Linked DNA regions of Homo sapiens: region 2 is linked to region 1. Evidence: fine-mapped expression QTL. A gene starts in region 1. The other region holds a variant in brackets. All regions are shown on one strand. Distances are from middle to middle.

Region 1 (5,384 bases):
TTTTTTCTCTCTTAATCCAAACTCAGCCCTGTCAATGACTAAGGTGACTAAAGTTAATGACTCTTGATATCTATATTTTACATATATACACACATAATAATTATAGCTGAAAAAATGAAATTAATGTATTTTAAACCAATTTCTAAAACTGGTTTAAAATTTCTAAACATATTGTCCTGGATTAAATAGTCACCAGAAAAAGCAAAATAAACAGATACTAGGGTATGCCCAGGTCCATCCTAAAGAGCAGCATCTTAACTTTCCTGATTCAAAGACAGATTTAAGGTATAATAAACTGGGCTCTGACAATAACTTAACACAGACTTAATATCTGGTCAAATGAGATCATGCATTTACATTTGTAGGAAATGTTTAACCAGTAACATGAACTGAAGGACTAACAAGCAAGAAAGAGGGAAAAGGTAGAAAGGGATCTATGTAATGCGGTTGACTAGACCACTGGGCCAAACTCAGCATCTGAACTGCTGCTCCACTGCCCACTGCCCACTGCCCACTACCCATTGGCCCCTGCCGTGTCTGCGCCTGTGCCTCGTCGATAGATGTCCCTAATTTTTGTGGCCATGCCTTTACTCAGTGCAGTGGCTTCTAACATTAATACATTTTACCTTGTGTCCTGGCGCGTGCACACACATGTGCAAACAAAAAAGCTTAGGAAAGGCCGGGCGTGGTGGCTCACATCTGTAATCCCAGCACTTTGGGAGGTCGAGGCAGGCGGATCACCTGCATGATCACCAAAGTGCTGGAAGGTCGAGGCAAGCGGATCACCTGAGGTCAGAAGTTCGAAACCAGCCTGGCCAATATGGTGAAACTCCATCTCTACCAAAAATACAAAAATTAGCCGGACGTGGTGGTGCTCGTCTGTAGTCCCAGCTACTCGGGAGGCTGAGGCAGGAGTATCGCTTGAACCCGACAGGTGGAGGTGGCAGTGAGCCGAGATCCTGCCACTGCACTCCAGCCTGGGCAACAGAGCGAGACTCCGTCTCAAAAAAAAAAAAAGCTTAGAAAACAAAACAATCTAATTTGTGCGGGCATCCTGCTATTTTCTACTCTATTTCATGTTAAGAAAATGGTGTTCGGGCCCCAGTAAACAGACCCTACGCAATGTTCTTCAAACTGCGGGTCGCGGGCCGTGATCTCGAAATTAGTGAGTCATGAGCAACACTGCTTAGAAAAATGCAACTGAACAGAATGGAATTGAAGAGACGAGAAACATTGCTTCCATCACGTCTCATTTGGTTAGATAGCTGTGTCCTAGGTTGCGACGTAAAACGTACCTTAGTGTGAAAAAAGCTGAAAGCCACTTAGCATTCTAATCCTTCACAAGTTTCCCACGCCTGTCAGCGACCTTGCAACCCTTACTTGTTATTCTCCAGTTCCTTTAATAGCTAGATTAAAAACCCTGGCACAGGACAGGGTCCATGCGAAACCCGTATCAACAACGCCAGTATCCGTTTAATGGGAGACGCAGAATTCAGCCACCTCTTTCCATGAGCCAAATTTGCAGATCCCTCAGATCAGGACCAGCCACTTAACTGCCAAGAGGATGGATGCTTCGCCTCATCCCCACAGCTGGCAAGCCCAGGCTGAGTCCCTTACCCGCGTTGCAGTCCCCAAGCCCGGACCCAGCCAACTTGTCCCGGAGGCCCAGCGCCAGGCTAGGGGGCGGGCAGTGTGGCCCCGCGCGTCCGAGCCTACCAACCGCGGCGCGCGCCTCGGGAACTGCGCCAGCCAGCCAATAGGAAGCGCGGAAGTGAGAGCGCGCCAAAACCGACCCAGCCAATGGGGCAGTCCCTCGACTCACCTCCCAACCCCGCCCCGGCTCCCGCGACCGTTCAACAACCCCTTCGCCCTTACCCAGGCCGCGGCCCTGCAGCTGTCAAAGTAGGACGCGGCTTCAGAGGTTGGCCGGAGGGAAAGCGAGTCGTCTAGAGGCTGTGCGCCTTGCGCCCCTGCGTACCCACTTCCTGCCGCCTCTTGCCCACTTACTGGGTGGAGACGCTCAATCCTCGTAGCGAACGCACGTAGCTATGGCTGCAGCACCTCGCAAAAGGCCACAGCTCACCTACGCTGATCCCCACGGTCGCTGGAGTGCCCGGCGCGCTCTGCAGTAAAGCCCTGCTAACTCCGCTCGCCCGCTCCGAACAACCACGTGACCAACTGACGCAGACGAGGGGCGGGGCCTCTGGATCCCGCGAATCGCCTCTTCCCTCGGCCCCGCCCCTTCCTGCGCCTGCGCGGTCAACGGTAGCGAGTACTTGAGGACCGTGGGGGTTTTCTGCGGGCTGGGAGGCCTGTGCCCTTTGACCCTCCCCTCCGACCCTGCTCTTGGAACTTCCTTAAAATGCAAAGTTTTAGCCCTTTACGAAAGGGAGAAAGATTTGCCTCCATTAGTCGTTAGCACCAGAAGAACAAAATATTGTATGTGCATATATATTAATATGTAGTACACGACATATATTTGTGTAAAGCCCTGGCTCCACGGACTCGTAGTTGTATTAGGGGCTTTTATATTTTGGCTTTTTGTGTTTTGACTATGGTGTGGTGCGGTAGGAATTGTTCAGGAGACAACCGATTATCAGTTAATCCTGCAGCTATTCATTGAGCGCCTTATACGTGCCAATTACTACTGTTCTAGGCACTGAAATTACAACTGCTGTTGCAATTTGAAGGAGCAGAAACACCTTGGTAATAATTACGTCTAGCCTTTTCCTTCTTTTTTTTTTTTTTAATTGAAACGGAGTCTCGCTCTGTCACCCAGGCTGGAGTGCAGTGGCGCGATCTCGGCTCACTGCAAGCTCCGCCTCCCGGGTTCAAGCGATTCTCCTGCCTCAGCCTCCCGAGTAGCTGGGACTACAGACAAAGGGAGACCCTGTCTCAAAAAAAAATTAATTTTAAAATATTTTAAAAATAAAAAGCAGAAGGAAGGCGTTATCGAGTACAAATAAGGGACATATTACCAAATGCAATGTATGGATCTCGTCTGAACTAAACACTGTATTTAAAAAAATACCCAAGGGAAATTTGAACACTGACTGAATATTTTGGGATGGTAAGATATGAGTTGTTTAAGGTTACCTGATGAGCAATGGGTTAAAAAAAGAGATTAGTTGTAATGACAATATTGTGGGTTTTATTGTAATAGCTTCTACCTATAAATGGTAATTACAGATGAAATTTTATACCATATATTTTATTTGAAATAATTATTGAGAGAAGCAAGGGAAAAGGTATAAATCAAGCTTTCTCAGTATGGGCTCTATTGACATTTTAGACTGGGCAAATTGTTCGTGGTGGGGGCTGTCCTGGGCATTGTATGCTGTTTAGCAGTATCCCTGGCCTCTACCCTCTAGCTACCAGGAGTACATCCCAATTGTGAAGACCAAAAATGTCTGCAGACCTTGTCAGATAACCTTCCGCAGGGCAAAATCATCCCCAGTTGAGAACCACTGGTGCGAATAAAACAGTATTGGCCTTGTGTTGATAACTGCTGAGGCTAGTATGGATGAGTACATGAAGATTTTTTATTCACTCCCTCTACTTTTATATCTGTTTGGGATTTTCAATAATAATTTTTTTTTTTGAGACGGAGTCTTGCACTGTCACCAGGGCTGGAGTGCAATGGTGCAACCTCGGCTTACTGCAACCTCTGCCCCCCCCGGGTTCAAGCGATTCTCCTGCCTCAGCCTCCCAAGTAGCTGGGATTACAGGTGCCCGCCACCACACCCAGCTAATTTTTTGTAGTTTTAGTAGAGACAGGGTTTCACTATGTTGGCCAGGCTGGTCTTGAACTCCTGATCGTGTGATCTGCCCACCTTGGCCTCCCAAAGTGCTGGGATTACAGGCGTGAACCACTGCACCTGGCCAATAATAAAATTTTTAAAATATTAATTTAAAAAGGATTAAATGATGGGATAAGGAGGTAGAAATACTGGAAAATGTTTAGCCATAAAAATTTCAGCAACCACTAGGCACCATGGCTCATGCCTGTAATCCCAGCACTTTGGGAGGCTGAGGCTGGCGGATCACCCTGAGGTCAGGAGTTCAAGACCAACCTGGCCAACATGGTGAAACCCTGTCTCTACTAAAAATACAAAAATTATCCAGGCATGGTGGCATGCGTCTGTAATCCCAGCTACTCAGGAGGCAGAGGCAGGAGAATAGCTTGAACCCAGGTGGTGGAGGTTGCAGTAAGCCAAGATCACACTACCACAATCTAGCCCAGGTGACAGAGTGAGACTCTATCTCAAAAACAAAACAAAACAAAACAAAACAAAACTTTAGCAACCACAAATATTTACACCAATTTTTTTATTTTTATTTTTATTCAGATGGATAAATAATAATTACATTGCACCAATTTATTTTTTGACAAACCATTTCTTTGATGAGTATAAGCACAGCTAAGAGAAGTGAAATGATGAAACACATTACTAATGAAGGTTTTGGGACTTGAGACTCAGATGATGTTAAGAATAATATACTCAGGATTGGCCGGGTGCAGTGGCTCACCCTGTAATCCCAGCACTTTGGGAGGCCGAGGCGGGTGGATCACGAGGTCAGGAGATCGAGACCATCCTGGCTAACATGGTGAAACCCCATCTCTACTAAAAACACAAAAAAAAGTTAGCCGGGCATGGTGGCAGGTGCCTGTAGTCCCAGCTACTCAGGAAGCTGAGGCAGGAGAACGGCGTGAACCCAGGAGGCAGAGCTTGCAGTGAGCGGAGATCGCGCCACTGCACTCCAGCCTGGGCGACAGAGTGAGACTACGTCTCAAACAAAAAGAAAAAAAAAAAGAATAATATACTCAGGATCTTCAGGGGATTATTTTAGTGCAGAATTATTTAAAGGATTGAAGATGGTCTAGAAGGTGGCCCCTGGGCATTAAATATGTTTTGTTTCACATACACAATTGTGGCCTACACATTGTCTTAAAATGGAAATTGTCTGTATTTTAAAAATCGGATGATTTCCATAAGCAAAGACAAATGATAAAGTAAGAGAAAATATAGGGAATTTCTTTTACACATAAAAGACTACATTCCCTAATTTTTAAAGAGCTATAAAACATTGAGAGGGAGAAGCCAACAGCCCAATAGATAAATCGGCAAAAGACAGGAATGGACGGTTCAGAGAAAACGATAGAGGAATGGTCCTTAAACATACAAAACCATGCTCAACTTTACTGAGAATAAGAGACATGCAAATTAAAACTCTGAAAAACTATTTCAACTATCAGACTAGCAGCTATAGAAAAGCTTGACAACATACTTACAGTAGATAGAATTCTAAAATGCCACCCATTATCTCTGACCTCTGATTATGCCTATGATTAGGTTATTCAATAAGGCAAAGGTGGTGGGATT
Region 2 (5,384 bases), 34 kb before region 1:
TGAGAGAAGGCCACACCTTAGAACTTGCCAAAATCTTGGAAAAGAGCTGCAGGCCTGATAAAGAAAGGAATTAATACCTCAAAAGAAAAAGTTAATGGCCTGTGATCAAAAACAGCTCTAGGGCCAGGCATGGTGGCTCATGCCTGTAATCCCAGCACTTTGGGAGGCTGAGGCCGGTGGATCACCTGAGGTCAGGAGTTTGAGACCAGCCTGGCCAACATGGTGAAACCTCATCCTTACTGAAAACACAAAAATTAGCCAGGCGTGGTGGCGCACACCTGTAATCCCAGCTACTCAGGAGGCTGAGGCAGGAGAATCGCTTGAACCCAGGAGACAGAAGTTGCAGTGAGCCAAGATCACGCCACTGTACTCCAGTCTGGGTGACTGAATGAGACTCTGTCTCAAAGAAAAAAAAAGAAACAGCTGTAGGAAATTTTGCCTTGTTACTTGGTTAAAAAAAAAATTACCTTCAGGTGCCCAAATAGAAAGCCCACAGTGATTGCTATTTGGGTGCTTTCCTGATATCCAGTGATATATCAGTGACAGATGTCTGTGATACAGACAAAGTAAATAAAGACATAAGGATACAGTGATCTGCATGGGTTTTCATACTCTGAATCCACTAGACTGTAAATTCTTGAGGACCAGAACCATGTCTGGTTTACTGTGGAATCTCTCATGCCTTATGAATAGTCTGGTTCATGGAGTGCTCAATAAATATTTGTGGAACAAACAAATAGAAGAATTGTCATTAATGGCCTTTACCTCCTCCTCTATTTTAGCATATAAACTAAATAGTAAGAATTTTTTAATTAGAGCCATTTTGGAATCAGTGAGATTCAGTGGAAAGAACCAGGGAAAATGGATTCTACTCTGGAAAAGCAAGCTCGTCACTTCACTCCTCTAGACCAGGAGTGTGCTGTGGAATGAGGAATTTAGCTGATCATCAGAATTCCTGAAAGTAAGAACTCTGGGCCCCATCCCAGGAAATTCTGATATAGTGCATCCGGAGTGGCACCCAGGAATATTGGGTTTCAGACACTCAGCTAGGTTTGACCCCATAGGTAAAGTGGTTTTTAGCATTCCTACCAGCTGGCCGGGCACAGTGGCTTACACCTGTAATCCCACCACATTAGGAGGCCAAGGCAGAAGAATTCGACTAGCCTGGGCAACATAGTGAGACCTCATCTGTACCAAAGGTTAAAAATTAAAAATCAGTCCTGGCTACTCAGGAGGCTGAGGCAGGAGAATTGCTTGAGCCCAGGAGGTCAAGGCTGCAGTGAGCTATGATTGCTCCATTGCACTCCAGCCTGGGCAACAAAGTGAGGCTAAAGTTCCCACCAGTTGTGAAATGCCAAGTCTCGTGGTACTCTAGACCTAAATGTCAAAACACGATTTAACCTATTTTTCCCCCATAGGCTACTGAAAGCATTAAAATGCTGGTGACATTGTGTCAATCTGATACTGAAGAAATCAGAAATGTGGCCTCAGAAACCCTCTTGTCTCTGGGTGAGTTTTATTGTTGTTGTTTACATGATTGTTTGCTTCTGGCACTCTCTAACGGATGTTCCCATTTAGATGTTCCCTTCTCCAGTAAGGAGAAGTTTCATGTACCCTGTTTAGCAGTTTCCCCGCTGTAGGCTGTCTTCTCACACACAGAGTACGAAGAACTGATCAGTGTCTATCTCACCCCAACTCCTTGTTCTGTCTGGATGCTGAGAGTGAACTATATTGTCTGGAGACTTTCTATATGGATTGATCAGTCTGTGTACTATTTAGAATCAAGAACACAGAAGTCAAACCATAAAGCAAAGGCAATAGGAATCCAGGCTGTGTTGCCAGGTGGGGTTGACATTCCCTGGAGGACAGAAATTGGGTGAGGTACCAGAGATGCATCCCAGGGAATGCTGTAAATCCCCAGGTATCTCAGCCTCACCCTGACTCCCAGGTTAACCTCTGACTGCCCTGTGGCCTCTGCCCATCTGAGCCCTGATACCTAAGAAAAGAATTGGAGTACTTATTTTATTCTGAAATATCCAGATAATCCTTCCTCTTCACTTTATTTTATGAAGGTTCATGCCTAGCAGGCATTATACATTTATTCTTTTTTGGGGACTTGGGAGGGTGGGGAAAGCCTTTCTTAACTCTGTATTAAAAAGTATAAATAGCTGGGTTTGGTGGCTCACCCCTGTAACCCCAGCACTTTGGGAGGCCAAGGTGAGTGGATCACTTGAGGTCAAGAGTTCGAGACCAGCCTGGCCAACATGATGAAACCATGTATCTACTAAAAATACAAAAATTAGCCAGGTGTGGTGGGGTGCACCTGTAGTCCCAGCTACTTGGGAGGCTGAGGTAGGAGAATCACTTGAACCCAGGAAACGGAGGTTGCAGTGAGCTGAGATCATGCCACTGTATTCCAGCCTGGGTGACAGAGCAAGACTCTGTCTCAAAAAAAAAAAAAAAGAAAAAAGTATAAATAATTATTATAAATAATTTTACTTCAACAACACAATCTTAAAGTATAAAAACTATGCTCCTAGAAATCCTCAGACATAATCCAATCAATACTGCAGCTTAGAAAAAAGCTACCCTTGTTTAGTGATACTAACTTAACAACATGAAGAAGAATCTCATGGCATTTATAATCACTGTGAAAATCCCATTTATTGTTAGGCCCTCTTTCTTACAATTATGGGTTTAACAAGGCTTCATTCTGCTATTGAATATATGATTTCTTCCACAGAAATCTTAGCCAGTATATATTTGTTTAAAGAATAAAAGTTATTCCTTATGGTTGTATTAGGCATAGAAATTATTTAATTCTCTAAAAATGTACCAAGGTATTATTAGTTTAAACTCCTTTATCCCTTCATATTCTAAAATAACCATGAAGGTAAGCCAGGCG[C/T]TTATAAAGCATAGCCAACGAAGCTTCTATTTCCAGTGTAACCTAAGGAAGCTGATCCTACAGAATGTGCCCCGGGCCTCACTGGAGCTGTGCAAACAGCAGCATCTCCAGAAGCCATCACCATACCTGCTTCACCTTAGCTCTTCATGCACACTGCTCATATCAGCCCTGGGCCCTCTCACACCACCAGTGTGCAGTGCTCAACACTGGCTGCACATTTGCCAGGGAAGCTTAAACAATCTACTCCCAAAGATTCTGCTTTCATTGGTCTAAGTGTTCCTTGGCATCAGGATTTTTTAAGGATTTTTTGAAGCCTCCCAGGTGATTCTAATATAAAGTTTGAGACCCCCCTGAAGTCAATATTATGAATCTTCTTTGACCCTAATACACAAATACTGGCACATTTTTCTCTTACACAAATGACTGAATTAATATAGTGAGGATAGTATTTTCAATAGGAATTGATAAAATGCCCTATGACAAAGGGCAGAAGGTCATTGCGGGCACTTAAAGGACTCAGGGCTGCAACTATTTACCAACTAGTATGGAATGATTTCGACATTTTAACCTAGAGCTGTCCAACAGATCCCTCCATGGTGATGGGATTGTTCTATATGCGCACTGTCCAGTATGACAGCAGCCATCCTAAATGGCTGTTGGGCTGTTCACCTTTGCCACCATGGAGGAACTGAAGTTTTAAGTTTACTCAATTTTGAGGATAGCTGCTCCTTGACTTACAATGGGGTTACATCCCAATAAACCCGTTGTAAGTTGAAAATACTGTTAAGTCAAAAATGCACTTAATACATCTTACTTGCAGAACATCATAGCTTAGCCTAGCCTACCTTAAACATGGAGTCTCTCTCTATCACCCAGGCTGGAGTGCAATGATGCAATCTCGTCTCATTGCAACCTCTGCCCCCGAGTTCAAGCAATTCTCCTGCCTCAGCCTCCCAAGTAGCTGGGACTACAGGTGGATTCCACCACACCCAGCTAACTCTTTTTTTGTATTTTTTGGTAGAGATGGGGTTTCACTGTGTTGATCAGGCTGGTCTCAAACTCGTGACCTCAAGTGATCCACTCACCTTGGCTTCCCAAAGTTCTGGGGTTACAGGTGTGAGCCACCACACCCAGCTGAACTTCTGATTAGGCACAACTATTTCCATCTTTGTCTCACTTGCATTACATGTATGAAAGCCTGCTTCTTATCACTTGTCTTTGCATTTTATTTTCTCATTTTCTAAATCATTTTTTAAAGTAGAAAAATAGAACAAAACATTAAAATTATTTGCAATTGCATCCTAACTGTTCAAGGTGGCGTTACGGACAAAACTGAACTAGCTGGTGGCTGGTAGAAGGCATCTCTGTATGTTTACATAGTAAAAAGTAATTTTTAGCTGAAGTTTGAAAGCCTAAGATTGATTTTACCACATATCATTTAGATGTATCGATATATAATGTATACAAGTAAAAGTTATGTAAAAGTTCAGTGCATTAGCCATATTGAAATCCCTAATGTACTTAAAATATAATCCATACAATTGCTCTAAAATAAATCGATTATATGAAATCATCAACATCAAATGGCCATAAGACTTCTACTCTGTTTCATACCCTGGCATTCTTTTGGTCTCTGGCATTAATTAGCTCAAAAGTTCTTGGTTGTTCTAAGCATTACCTGGAAAACAATGACATAATTAGGAATAACAAAAGATAACTTTTCCTTACCAAAAGTTAGCATAGCATATTATAGCAACCCATCCCTAAACAAATGGCACTATGTTACTTTGAGTAATTAATAAAAACGTTGTTTGAATTGGTATTCATGTTTAATGTTCTGTATTTAGGAGAAGATGGGCGGCTGGCATATGAACAATTGGACAAATTTCCTCGAGACTGTGTTAAAGTCGGAGGTCGTCATGGAACTGAAGTTGCCACAGCCTTTTAATTACAGGTTAACTGCCTAACAGCTGTCTTAATATCTGGCCCTTTTCATCAGGATGGTGCTGTGGTTTGGGCTGGAAATTGTTTAGAGCCTGAGAGACACGACAACTGAAATAAAAATGTAGGCCAGGTGCAGTGGCTCATGCCTGTAATCCCAGTACTTTGGGAGGCCAACGCAGGAGAATTGCTTAAGCCCAGGAGGTTCAAGACCAACCTGGGCAACATAGCAAGGCCCTGTCTCTACAAAAAAAATAGTTTAATTAGTCAGGCGTGGTGGCATGCACCTGTAGTCCCAGCTACTTGGGAGGCTAAGGTGGGAGGATTGCTTGAGCCCAGAAGATTCAGGCTGCAGTGAGCCATAATTGCCCCACTGCACTCCAGACTGGGTGACAGAGCAAAACCCTGTCTCAAAAAACAAAACAACAACAACAACTAAAAAAACATGTTATAGAAAGAATTCAGAGTCTCGTTTCACAGTACCTATCTACTTTTCCTTTGGCCAATATAGAATAGGGCTATGGTATAATTCAAATAT

What was found. PIP is the estimated chance that this variant, and not a neighbour inherited with it, causes the effect. A credible set is the group of variants that fine-mapping cannot tell apart.
Region 2: its variant is the best candidate, but not a certain one, in a credible set for the expression of GMNN in whole blood (TOPMed, PIP 0.55).

Annotation. Positions count from the first base shown.
Region 1 is chr6:24,771,736-24,777,119 of GRCh38, reverse strand. It overlaps GMNN (geminin DNA replication inhibitor), which reads right to left and starts at 2,183. Exons shown (of 7, transcript NM_015895.5): 1 at 1,876-2,183. RefSeq lists an enhancer at 1,189-1,268.
Region 2 is chr6:24,805,842-24,811,225 of GRCh38, reverse strand. RIPOR2 (RHO family interacting cell polarization regulator 2) reads left to right here. Exons shown (of 22, transcript NM_001286445.3): 21 at 1,419-1,509; 22 at 4,753-5,384. The coding sequence ends at 4,853. Among named protein-coding and RNA genes, the nearest start is that of ARMH2, 9.6 kb to the right of the region's middle. The variant C/T (reference allele first, on the strand shown) is at 2,906.